Homo sapiens: one gene and its partners. The protein of the gene in region 2 purifies or fractionates together with the protein of the main gene of each other region. This does not show direct contact. Each region holds a gene or a part of one and is shown on either strand. Other genes may lie near its edges.

Region 1 (3,654 bases), on a different chromosome or scaffold from region 2:
TTCCAACTGAGTAATGTACCAATGCTGGTCCCGGGATTTTTGAAAGAAAGTTGGTGAACGTACCTGAAACCTTAAAAGAATTGTGCCACATTAAAAAAAAAATTCAAATAGTAAAACATTATCAGTCTAGCACTGAATTCTGCAATTTGGGTTAACTTGATTATAAGGCCAAAATTCACATAAACTTAGAGCTGCTAGTATTTGTTGTTTATAGATGTAGTCCACAGATTATGACACAAGGTTCTGAAAAGCCAGTTGTCCTCAAACTACCTTTCTAAAGAAATAACATTGTACATTGTAGTTAAGCTTCCCAAACTAACCTACTCAGGCATATTTATTATAATAATGTAACTAAAATACAATGATGATCATGAGTTGGGAAGAAGAGAGCCATATACTATGCAGTTTCCTCCTATAAGGAGGAAGATAACTCTTATCCCTTTCTTCCCTAAATGAGGCCCCAGCAAAATACAAAGTTTTTTTTTTTTTTGAGACGGAGTCTCGCTCTGTCGCCCAGGCTGGAGTGCAGTGGCGGGATCTCGGCTCACTGCAAGCTCCACCTCCCGGGTTCACGCCATTCTCCTGCCTCAGCCTCCCAAGTAGCTGGGACTACAGGCGCCCGCCACTACGCCCGGCTAATTTTTTGTAGCAAAATACAAAGTTTTAAGTGCTGCTCTTTATATTTCTCTATTCCATCTCACGTTCCCGTATTTCCTGCCCCTCAGAAAAAAAATCACTTCCTGGCTCAACCACCCAGGATTGCTTTACTATCCCCCAAGGAGTTACATGCTCTAAATAAACTATATCCTGAACCCTTCAAGATAGCAATCAAAACTGCCCTTATTACAATATGGCATTATTTCAGCTTAGGTTAGGAAAAAAAGTACTGCACCTACATAAAATCGTATTAATATATAAATGACAGAATCTTAATCTATCCAGAGTTGTTTTAATTAAAAAAAAAAAAAAAACTATTACTAAAGCAAACAAACCTCTACCTTTGTTACATAGCCTAACGTGACTATATTTAAGGTGAAAAAATTGCAGTGCATGTGTGAAGGTGTTTTTGAAGAAAGGAAAAACCACAAGGCAAGACTAATTTGGACATCTACATCTCTCTCATTCCTTCCAGCCCTTTTACCCGGCTACACAATGTTAGCTGTTCATTTTTTTCTAGGATTTTACACCTTATTGTAAGAACCTACTGACCATTTAACAGTTATCTGGCAGTAGATATCTAGTTTTAGTGAAGAATACTAATGCAAGAAAGGACAGAACATAAACACTGACTATAAAACAACAGTCCTATTTAATGTTGGGATAGTCTTTATAGGTCAGAAGTTTTTGGGCATCATTATATGTTATAACTGGATGATCAAAATGAGAACTTGAGTATTAAAAAAAGAGAGAGATTGGCCGGGCACAGTGGCTCACACCTGTAATCTTAGCACTTTGGGAGGCCGAGGTGGGCAGATCACCTAAGGTCAGGAGTTCGAGACCAGCGTGGCCAACATGGTGAAACCCCGTCTCTACTAAAAGTACAAAAATTAGCCGGGTATGGTGGCGGGCGCCTGTAATCCCAGCTACTCAGGAGGCTGAGGCAGGAGAATCGCTTGAATCTGGGAGGCAAAGGTGGCAGTGAGCCGAGATCGCACCACTGCACTCCAGCCTGGGCAACAGAGCGAAACTCTGTCTCAAAAAATCAAATCAAATCAAATCAAATCAAATCAAATCAAATCAAATCAAGAGATTAAATTACGTTCTGAACGGAACTGAGTAGAGATGATTCACTCAACTGAGCAGAGACGATTCACAGTCTAGGAAGTACCCACTGGTAAGACATTAAAGTAAGACCGTCTAAACACTATTATTTTCTTTGAATGATTTAAACCACTGGTTAACTCTGCACATTAGTTCTAATATTTTGCCATTAAAACAAAACCAAGCAGCAGGTAAAATTTCTTAACTTTCTGTTTTAATGAAAGAATGAAACATACATTCATAGTTATAGAAAAGCCTTAAATAACTTTCTAATAAATACATACAAAATTCCACCAGAATCTTGAAATAAAAGGTTTAAAGTTTGAGCAATGTCTCATTAATAGGATAATGTGAAGCCCCCTATCCACAAACTTCATAGCAATTTACTTACGGTGCTACTATAGCATTATTTTATAATAAGAGAGTAGTAAATTCTGTTTTTATCTGCCAATTTCATCTTGAGTTCCCTGTGGACAAAAACCATGTCTATATTTTTCTTATTAGCAACTCAGTGTCAGGCATATGGTATAGACTCAATGTTGCTTAAAAAAAATGATGTCATAACAGGAATTTGTTTCTGTACTAATAAGTAACGCTAATAAGGATGAAATCAAGGCTATAAGAAAATGGGTCTTTTATAGGTTGGTAAAATTGATGTTTGAATAATTTTGTAATTCTCTCTATGGCTGAAGCATGAAATAGCAATAAATTATTTCTCTTGGTGAATAGTTAAACCCCAAAAGTCTGAAAAGCTATACGAAGAAAACTAAAATAATCCCTCCCCTCAAAAAACATGATTCCAGGCACCGTGGCATGCACCTGTAATCCTACCTACTTGGGAAGTTGAGACAGGAGGATCACTTGAGCCCGAGAATTCTAGACTAGACTGGGCAATATAGCAAGACACTGACTCTAAACAAAACAAAACAATAACAAAAACATATCTTTTTCCCTACACTGAAAATCATATCCCTTGTTAAACTTCTTTATACTTCCAGAAAAGCTACGGAAAACACATAAGAGTAAATGCTGATATGATAGCAACTCATCTGTCCAGTATGCTCAAGAACAAAGAGCTCCGAATAAGGGAAATTCAGGAGTACATTAAATCACTCTCAAGAAAAAAATGTTTAAAATTGTTGTGATGAGAACTTTTTAAACTGTTAAATACTCTGAAACTTCTCAGTTCAGAACATATTTTAATCTTTTTTAAATATTCAAGTTCTTATTTTGATCATCAAATTATAACATCATGTAATGATACCCAAAAACCTTTTTTTGTTTGTTTTTTGTTTTTTTAAGATGGAGTTTCACTCTTGTCGCCCAGGCTGGAGTGCACTGGTGAAATCTCGGCTCACTGCAACATCTGCCTCCCGGACTCAAGCGATTCAACTGCCTCAGCTTCCCAAGTAGCTGGGATTACAAGTGCCTGCCACCATGCCCAGCTAATTTTTGTATTTTTAGTAGAGACAGGGTTTCACCATGTTGCCCAGGCTGATCTTGAACTCCTGACCTCAGGTGATCCACCCACCTCAGCCTCCCAAAGTGCTGGGATTACAGGCGTGAGCCACGGCACCCAGCCAATGCCCAAAAACTTCTGACCTGTAAAGACTACCCCACGTTAAACAGGGCTGTTGTTTTTATTTACTTTATTATTATTTTTGAGATAGGGTCTTGCTATGTCGCCCAGGCTGGGGTGCAGTGGCATAATCTCGGTTCACTGCAACCTCCACCTGCCGGATTCAAGCGATTCTCCTGCCTTGGCCTCCTGAGTAGCTGGGATTACAGGCGCGTGCCACCACAGCCCGGCTAATTTTTGTATTTTTAGTAGAGATAGGATTTCACCATATTGGCCAGGCTGCTCTCAAACTCCTGAGCCCAAGTGATCTGCCT
Region 2 (3,654 bases):
TATTACAGTGTATAATATGGAAATTTTTTATATCTTAAGAATATGCTGTTTTAAAATTGTTGCCATCTTAATCTCAGAAATACCATTACACTGACTTGCCGTAATTTGTTATTTAAGACTGAGGGGCAAAACTCAAACCGTATCTTCCTCTGTCTGGTCTTGCACCACGCAACAATAAACACAGACAACTTATGTCACCAAATGTGAGTTTTACTTCCACCAATAAGCAATCAGTTCTGCAGTGGCTACTTGCTGGGGGCCCTTGAATTCTATTCTGATGCTGTGTACCTGGAGAGCGTGTCACATGCCACAGGTTGAGGGCTCAGTCTCCAATACTGCCCCCTTTCAGACACGGGTCATAAGTCCAGGCCTCTGGAACTTTCGACCAACTGGCTTCAAAAGTTGGGGTTCCCATGGCTCCCTCTTTGGGTTTGATTAATTTGCTAGAGTGGTTCACAGATCTCATGGTAATACATACTTAACATTTACAGGGTTTATTCCACAGCGTATTTTAAAGGCTCCAGGCCCGGCATGGTACCTCATATCTGTAACCCAAGAATTTTTGGAGGCTGAGGTGGGCGCATTACTTGATCCCAGGAGTTTGAGACCAGCAACATAATGAGACGTTATCTCTACAAAAAATTAAAAAATTGGCCGGGCGCAGTGGCTCACGCCTGTAATCCCAGCACTTTGGGAGGCCCAGGCGGGCGGATCACGAGGTCAGGAGATCGAGATCATCCTGGCTAACATGGTGAAACCCCGTCTTTACTAAAAATACAAAAAATTAGCCGGGTGTGGTTGCAGACGCCTGTAGTCCCAGCTACTTGGGAGGCTGAGCCCGGAGAATGGCCTGAACCCGGGAGGCGGAGCTTGCAGTGAGCGGAGATGGTGCCACTGCACTCCAGCCTGGGAGATAGAGCGAGCCTCCATCTCAAAAAAAAAAAAAAAAAAAAAAAAAAATTTAAAAAATTAGCCAGGCATGGTAGTACACACCTTGTAGTCCCAGCTACTCAAGAGGACTGCTCGAGCCCAGGAGTTTAAGGCTGCAGTGAGCTATGATCGCGCCACTGCACTGCAGCCTGGCTGACACAGAGCAAGACCTTATTCCAAATAGATAGAGAAGGATAAATTAACAGATGGAAAGAACATAGGGTCAGGTCTGGAAGGGTCCCCAGCACAGGAGCTTCTGTGTCCTGGAGTTGGCTTGTGCCACCCTCCTGGCATGTGTGTGAGTTCCTGCTCACCTTCCTGTCAGCCTCGGGGTGTTCAGCTGTCCAGAAGCTCTCTGAACCCAGTCCTTTTGGGTTTTTATAGAAGCTTTATTATATAATGAAGTTACATGATATAACTTCATTATTTGTCTTTTTGTCTTTGTATGACTGGCTTATTTCACTTACCAGAGTGTCTTTCAGGTTCATCCATTTTGTAGCATATAAAGAAATTTCCATATTTTTTTAGGAACAAAGAATGCTTCTTTTGCTTTCTTTTTTTGAGACGGAGTCCCACTCTGTCGCCGGGCTGGAGTGCGGTGGCGCGATCTTGGCTCACTGCAACCTCTGCCTCCCGGGTTCAAGCGATTCTCCTGCCTCAGCCTCCTGAGTAGCTACAACTACAGGCATGCGCCACCATGCCCAGCTAATTTTTGTGTTTTTAGTAGAGATGAGGTTTTACCATGTTCACCAGGATGGTCTCGATCTCCTGACCTCGTGATCCACCCACCTCAGCCTCCAAAAGTGCTGGGATTATAGGCGTAAGCCACTGCGCCTGGCCTCCTTTTTCTATTTGTTAATCAGGTTACTGGTTTTCTGATTTGTAGGAGTTTTATGTATTTTAGATATATAAAATCTTATCAGAGGTATGATTTGAAAATATTTTCTCACATATGGTAGGTTTCCTTTTCACTCTGGTAATTGTTTTCTTCCATCCACAGTAGTTGTAGGTCTTGTGGTAGTACATTTTATGTATTTTTACCTTCTTTCTTGTGTTATCAGTGTTCTATCCAGGGAAGCATTATTGAATCCAACGTTATGAAGCTTTCCACCTGATTTTTTCTAGGAGTTTTATGGTTTTAGGTCTTAGTTTTAGGTCATGAATTGGCTTTCAGATAATTTTTGCATACGGTGTAATAAGAGTTCAACTTCATTCCTTTCTTGTGGATATCCAGTTTCCTCAGCACTATTTGATAAAGAGACTGTCCTCTCTCGTTACATGGTCTTGGCAGCCTTATTGAACATCATTTGACCAAATATTTGAGGGTTTGTTTCTGGCCTGTCTGTTCTAGTCCATTGGCTTATATGTCTGCCTTCATGGCAGTACAGTTCTATTTTGATGAAGGTAGCTTAGTAATAAGTTTTGTAATCATGCAGTGTAACACCTCCAGCTTTCTTTCTTTCAAGTTTGTTTTGCTATTGAGGCACATGTGTGATTTCATATTAATTTTAGGATGAGTTTATTTATGAAGAAAACTTCCTTGGGATTTTGCTAAAGAGTTCACTGAATCTGTAGATCTCTTTGGCTATTGACATCTTAACCTTAAGACTTACAATCCATAAACATGGGCTGTTTTTGCATTTGTGTGTGTCTTCTCTACTTTGTTTCAGCAATTTTTTGTAGATTTCTGTGTACAAATTTTTCCCGTCCTTGTTAAGCTTATTCCCTCCATATTTGGAGGTTTTGCATCTACAGATTCCACAAAATTGCAGATCAGAAATCCACAGGTCATTGAATCTGCACATATGGATCCCATGGATACGTAGGGCAGACTGTATTTTCAATCCATGGTTAGTTGAATCTGCAGATATAGAAACCACAGGTATGGAAGGCCTGCAGTAAGGAACTCAGGCATCCACAGATTTTGATATCTGAGAGTGTTTTAAGAAAAACTCTCAAACCATGTTTTTCCTCTGCTCTCACGCCACCACAACAATCTGTCAAGACAGAATAAGACTTCCGTGACCGACGGTATAGGAGTTTTTTCCCACACATCAAGCAACGGACAAGAGCTGGGTTTCCTACAGTTCAGTTCTGACACTATACCTGGAGATAGTGTCAGATCCCACGGGTTGAGGGCTCAGTGTCAAAGGCTTCCCCCATTTCCCACCAGTTACGAGTCTGGGCCTCTAGAACTTCTGACCAACTAGCTTCCATTTGTGGTTTCTGTGGCCCCTCTTTGGGCTCGATAAAGTTTCTGGATTGTCTCACAGAACTCACAGAAACACTTACTTACATTTGCCAGTTTATTATAAAGGCTATTGAAAAGGATACAGATGAAGAGACCTGTAGGGCAAGGTATGGGGGAAGGGGTGTGGAGCTTCTCTGCCCTCCCTGCGACCAGCATCCAGGAAGCTCCATGTGTTCAGCCATCTGGAAGCTCTCTAAATGCAGTCCTCTTAGATTTTTATAGAAACCTTATTATGTCAGCATTCTTTCCCCCAGACATAAAGCAGGACCCTCTCTCGGGAGGTCTTAAGACCTATAATCAGAAAGATGGGAGATTAGAGTTCTGCCTTGAGGCAGGTGAATGGAGGGCAGGAAAAGGTTGGAGAGGTTCTGTTTCCTGAGTTCTGCCCTGGGGCCTACCGTACCCAACACTATAACAGAAGACTGTAGCAAAGGCTATGGGAGTTATGAGCCAGGAACTGCAGATGAAAACAA
Region 3 (3,654 bases), on a different chromosome or scaffold from region 2:
AAAAAAGTAAATCTGCCATTTTTGGTATTAATATAGCAATAAACTTTACATAAACTTCACTGAAAACTGGATCTTCAAAGACCAATGCTTTTAAAAATTTTTTTTTTTAATTTTTTTTTAAATTTTAAAGAGACAGTGTCTTGCTCTGTCACCTAGGCTGGAGTGCAGTGGTGTGATCACAGCTCACTGCAGCCCCAAACTCCTGGGCTCAAGCAATCCTCCCACCTCAGCCTCCCAAGTAGCTGGGACTACAGGCATGTGCTACCACACCTGGCTATTTATTTCTATTTTTTGTAGAGACAGGGTCTTGCTATGTTGTCTAGGCTGGTCTCAAACTCCTGGCCTCAAGCAATCCTCTTGCCTTGGCCTCCCAAAGTGTTAGGATTACAGGCATAAGCCACTGCATCTGGCCAACTGGTACATTTATCTGCCCAAGTTGCTCTCCTGCTCTCCCAAGTCTGATCTGTCTCAACAGCCTCAGGAAGCCCAAGCTGAACAGCATACCCTGGAGTAACTACTGCTACTCTTCAGCTGTGTACACATGACCTAGACTAAATGAGATAATAAATGGGGAAATTGTTTGTAAACTATAAGGTGCTATACAATCTTACAATATGATTTTAGAACACTATTTTCCAGAAAATGCATGTTAACTTAGCTTTTGTAACATAAATGATAGGTTAAAAGCAAAGTTTTCCTTTTATCTGTGTATTAAGAACTGTGTGGCAGAAGTTAAACCACACAATATTCCTTCCAAGGGCGTGCAGCACCCTAGTCTGGGCCAACCAGCTGGCTCACGAAAAAGACCATTCTAACCAATACTAACAAGACCAATACTAACACCAAAGCCTATTCAAACTTCTGACAAGCTCAAGAATGAATCTGAACATCCAAAACCAATGGATCTCTTATAATTACTGTGTAATATATTTTTACTATATTTTCTGTTACCTAATTTTAAGAAACCTATTCAACAACTAGTATATTTACAATGAAAGGCAAACTTATCCATTTCCTGCCTGACCTGCACCACTTCTTCTCCTTGTAAGGCCTCGATCTGCCTGGGCCGCCGCTGCCTGTCGCTGTTCCCATGGCCAAGTTTACCATAGTCACCATCTCCCCAGCTAAAGACCTCACCACTTTCAGTTAGGGCCATAGAGTGCCCATCAGAACCACAGGAAGTCACCAGCTGGGTCACCACAAAGCCTGGAACAGAACAGAAACCCAACAGGAGTCACTGGATGTTAAAACTCTCCTCTTTACTTGCAGCTGCTACTGAATACCCTCAATCAAAAACCACCGAATTGGTACTATGAAAATAAGAATAATTTCATTAGTTTTTTTTTTTTTTTTAGATGGAGTCTCACTCTGTCATCCAGGCTGGAGTGCAGTGGTGTGATCTCGGCTCACTGCAACCTCCACCTCCCCGGTTCAAGTGATTCTCTTGCCTCAGCCTCCTGAGTAGCTGGGATTACAGGCATGTGCCACCATATCTGGCTAATTTTTGTATTTTTAACAGAGACAGGGTTTTACCATGCTGGCCAGGCTGGTCATGAACTCCTGACCTCAAGTGATCCGCCCACCTCGGCCTCCCAAAGCGCTGGGTTTACAGGCATGAGCCACAGTAACCGGCCTAATTTCTTTAGTTTTAAATTGAATTTGTAGCCATAACCTAGCAAAACTGCGAATAGTCACCTAAAATAATGGTGATGACAAGGAAAACGAGGATGACAGCAATAGTTACAGTCATTAATGACTGGCTATGCTCTAGCCACTCCTATAAATGCTTTACATGGATTATCTCATTTTCTACTTTCACATAGCACCTATGAAACAGATACTAACATCCCATTTTTACAAGTGGGAAAACTGAGTCACAAAGAGGTCTCGAAGCTTGTGCAATGTCCCAGAGCCAAGGACCAGTAGAACCCATAGGAACCCAGCACACATTCTCATCTTTACTGCTGTGCTCTTCACACTCAGATCACAATGAAAAGAACCTGAGCTTCTAGGAACTTGTTTTGAACTCATAGTTACTTGTATGCTTTTACCTAAAAAAACCGTCGGTGCTCTCTTTGTAGGCTTCAGAGTCATTATGAGTTCAGTTAATGAGCAAGCCGGGGGCTTGTACAGTGGTTTCTCCAAAGGTGTTCTCTCTCCAAGTCACAAAGAACTCTGATGAAGATGTCCTTTAAAGTCTTTAGCACATTTGCAGATTTCCATATAAACTGATTTTTAATTTTAATGAAATACATGCATGATTGCTACTGCTATTAACATCTGCCTACTTACACTTTTGCAATTTTTAAGCATTTGTTTACAATCTTCAGTGGGTCTCAAAAAGTGTTATTTATATTTCACTGAATTCTAGCATTGCTATAAGTAACCTGCAATATAGCTTAAAATATGGAAATTAAGGCTGCACACATGCCTAAATAAGGATTTAAATGTAAGTGAAAACCTGATATGATTTTATCTAGCAAAGGTTTGAGAAGGGCAAAGGTTTGTACGACCAAACCTACATTAGGCCTTAGGTTCTAACCATCTTTTTATTAAGGACAATTTTACCTTGTAAGGCTGAAATAACTGTCAGCACATGAAGGTCATCTGAATTTCCTTGTCCTAATCTGCCATAACTTCCTTCCCCACAAGCCAACACTGTGCCATTGGCCTGGATGACAAAGGTACAATTCTGACCACAAATGACCTAGTATAAAAACACAGAATTAAATATTTTATTCTTTATTATATTGCTTTAACATGCAAGCACTTGAAATGATTCCACGTATACATAGAATGCTTTTATAATTGTTTTATCCTTTTACTGAAAGGGAAGAGTTGATATAACTATGCAGTCCCGTAACTCCTTGATGACTATAAAACTGCTTATTTAACCAAGAGATGTATGAGATTCATCCATTTAAAATAGTTTAGAACAACAAAATGGATGAAAGAAAAAGGAAGGGGTGATGGGGAAACATTAAAGACTGGGCTAGAAAGAAGCAGAAACTCGTACATAAGAATGAGTCATGCAATCTGGACTAGCTGAGGTAAAGAAGAGCAAAAGAGAAAGCAGAGGCCTCGAGAAGGGTTTGGCGCTATATCGTACCAGGATTATTAGAAAAGGGGAGTGGTCGATAAAATCTGGCTAAAGATCCTAGGAAGTTTTTAGCCCCAAAGAGAAAATCACTAATTAGGAGTATCTAAACTGCTAGAAATACATACTGGGCAGGCCTAACACATCATGATGTTAGTTCATTAAACTTGAAAGAAAAATTTAGAAATTTGTTAACTTCTTAAGTCTGATAAAAACCACACCAAGTTTTTATTTGAAAGCTATATATCATGACTTTCTTTAATGATTCCTCATAATAGATTATGAAATGGACAAGCTTTATCCCACAATAAGACAAGCAAAAGAATTAGAATTTTCAGTTCCCATGTTTCTTTTCTATTTTTTATCCTGTTAGTTACCTGTTGGGCCTGTGAGAATGAGGGAGCTGCTGCAGGTACCATTACATTTCTTCCAGCTTCTGCCAGCTGTCCATGCCTACCAGCACCCCATAAGTAGACATCACATTTACCTCCCAGGTGCCAGTCCTAGAAAACCACAATCATCTCAAAATTAGAGTCATCCATTCACTCAAACAGCCA

Evidence for each region.
Region 1: the proteins of ZNF610 (region 2) and TRIM37 purify together in Homo sapiens (affinity purification with mass spectrometry; 2 studies listed by BioGRID and IntAct, with this or other methods). This does not show direct contact.
Region 3: the proteins of ZNF610 (region 2) and HERC1 purify together in Homo sapiens (affinity purification with mass spectrometry; 2 studies listed by BioGRID and IntAct, with this or other methods). This does not show direct contact.

The regions. Positions count from the first base shown.
Region 1 is NC_000017.11:59,051,259-59,054,912, forward strand, and holds part of TRIM37 (E3 ubiquitin-protein ligase TRIM37), read right to left. Parts: intron 71-3,654; coding exon 1-70. UniProt on the Homo sapiens protein: E3 ubiquitin-protein ligase required to prevent centriole reduplication. Probably acts by ubiquitinating positive regulators of centriole reduplication.
Region 2 is NC_000019.10:52,356,712-52,360,365, forward strand, and holds part of ZNF610 (zinc finger protein 610), read left to right. Parts: intron 1-3,654. UniProt on the Homo sapiens protein: May be involved in transcriptional regulation.
Region 3 is NC_000015.10:63,634,937-63,638,590, forward strand, and holds part of HERC1 (probable E3 ubiquitin-protein ligase HERC1), read right to left. Parts: intron 3,601-3,654; coding exon 3,475-3,600; intron 2,708-3,474; coding exon 2,569-2,707; intron 1,207-2,568; coding exon 1,025-1,206; intron 1-1,024. UniProt on the Homo sapiens protein: Involved in membrane trafficking via some guanine nucleotide exchange factor (GEF) activity and its ability to bind clathrin. Acts as a GEF for Arf and Rab, by exchanging bound GDP for free GTP.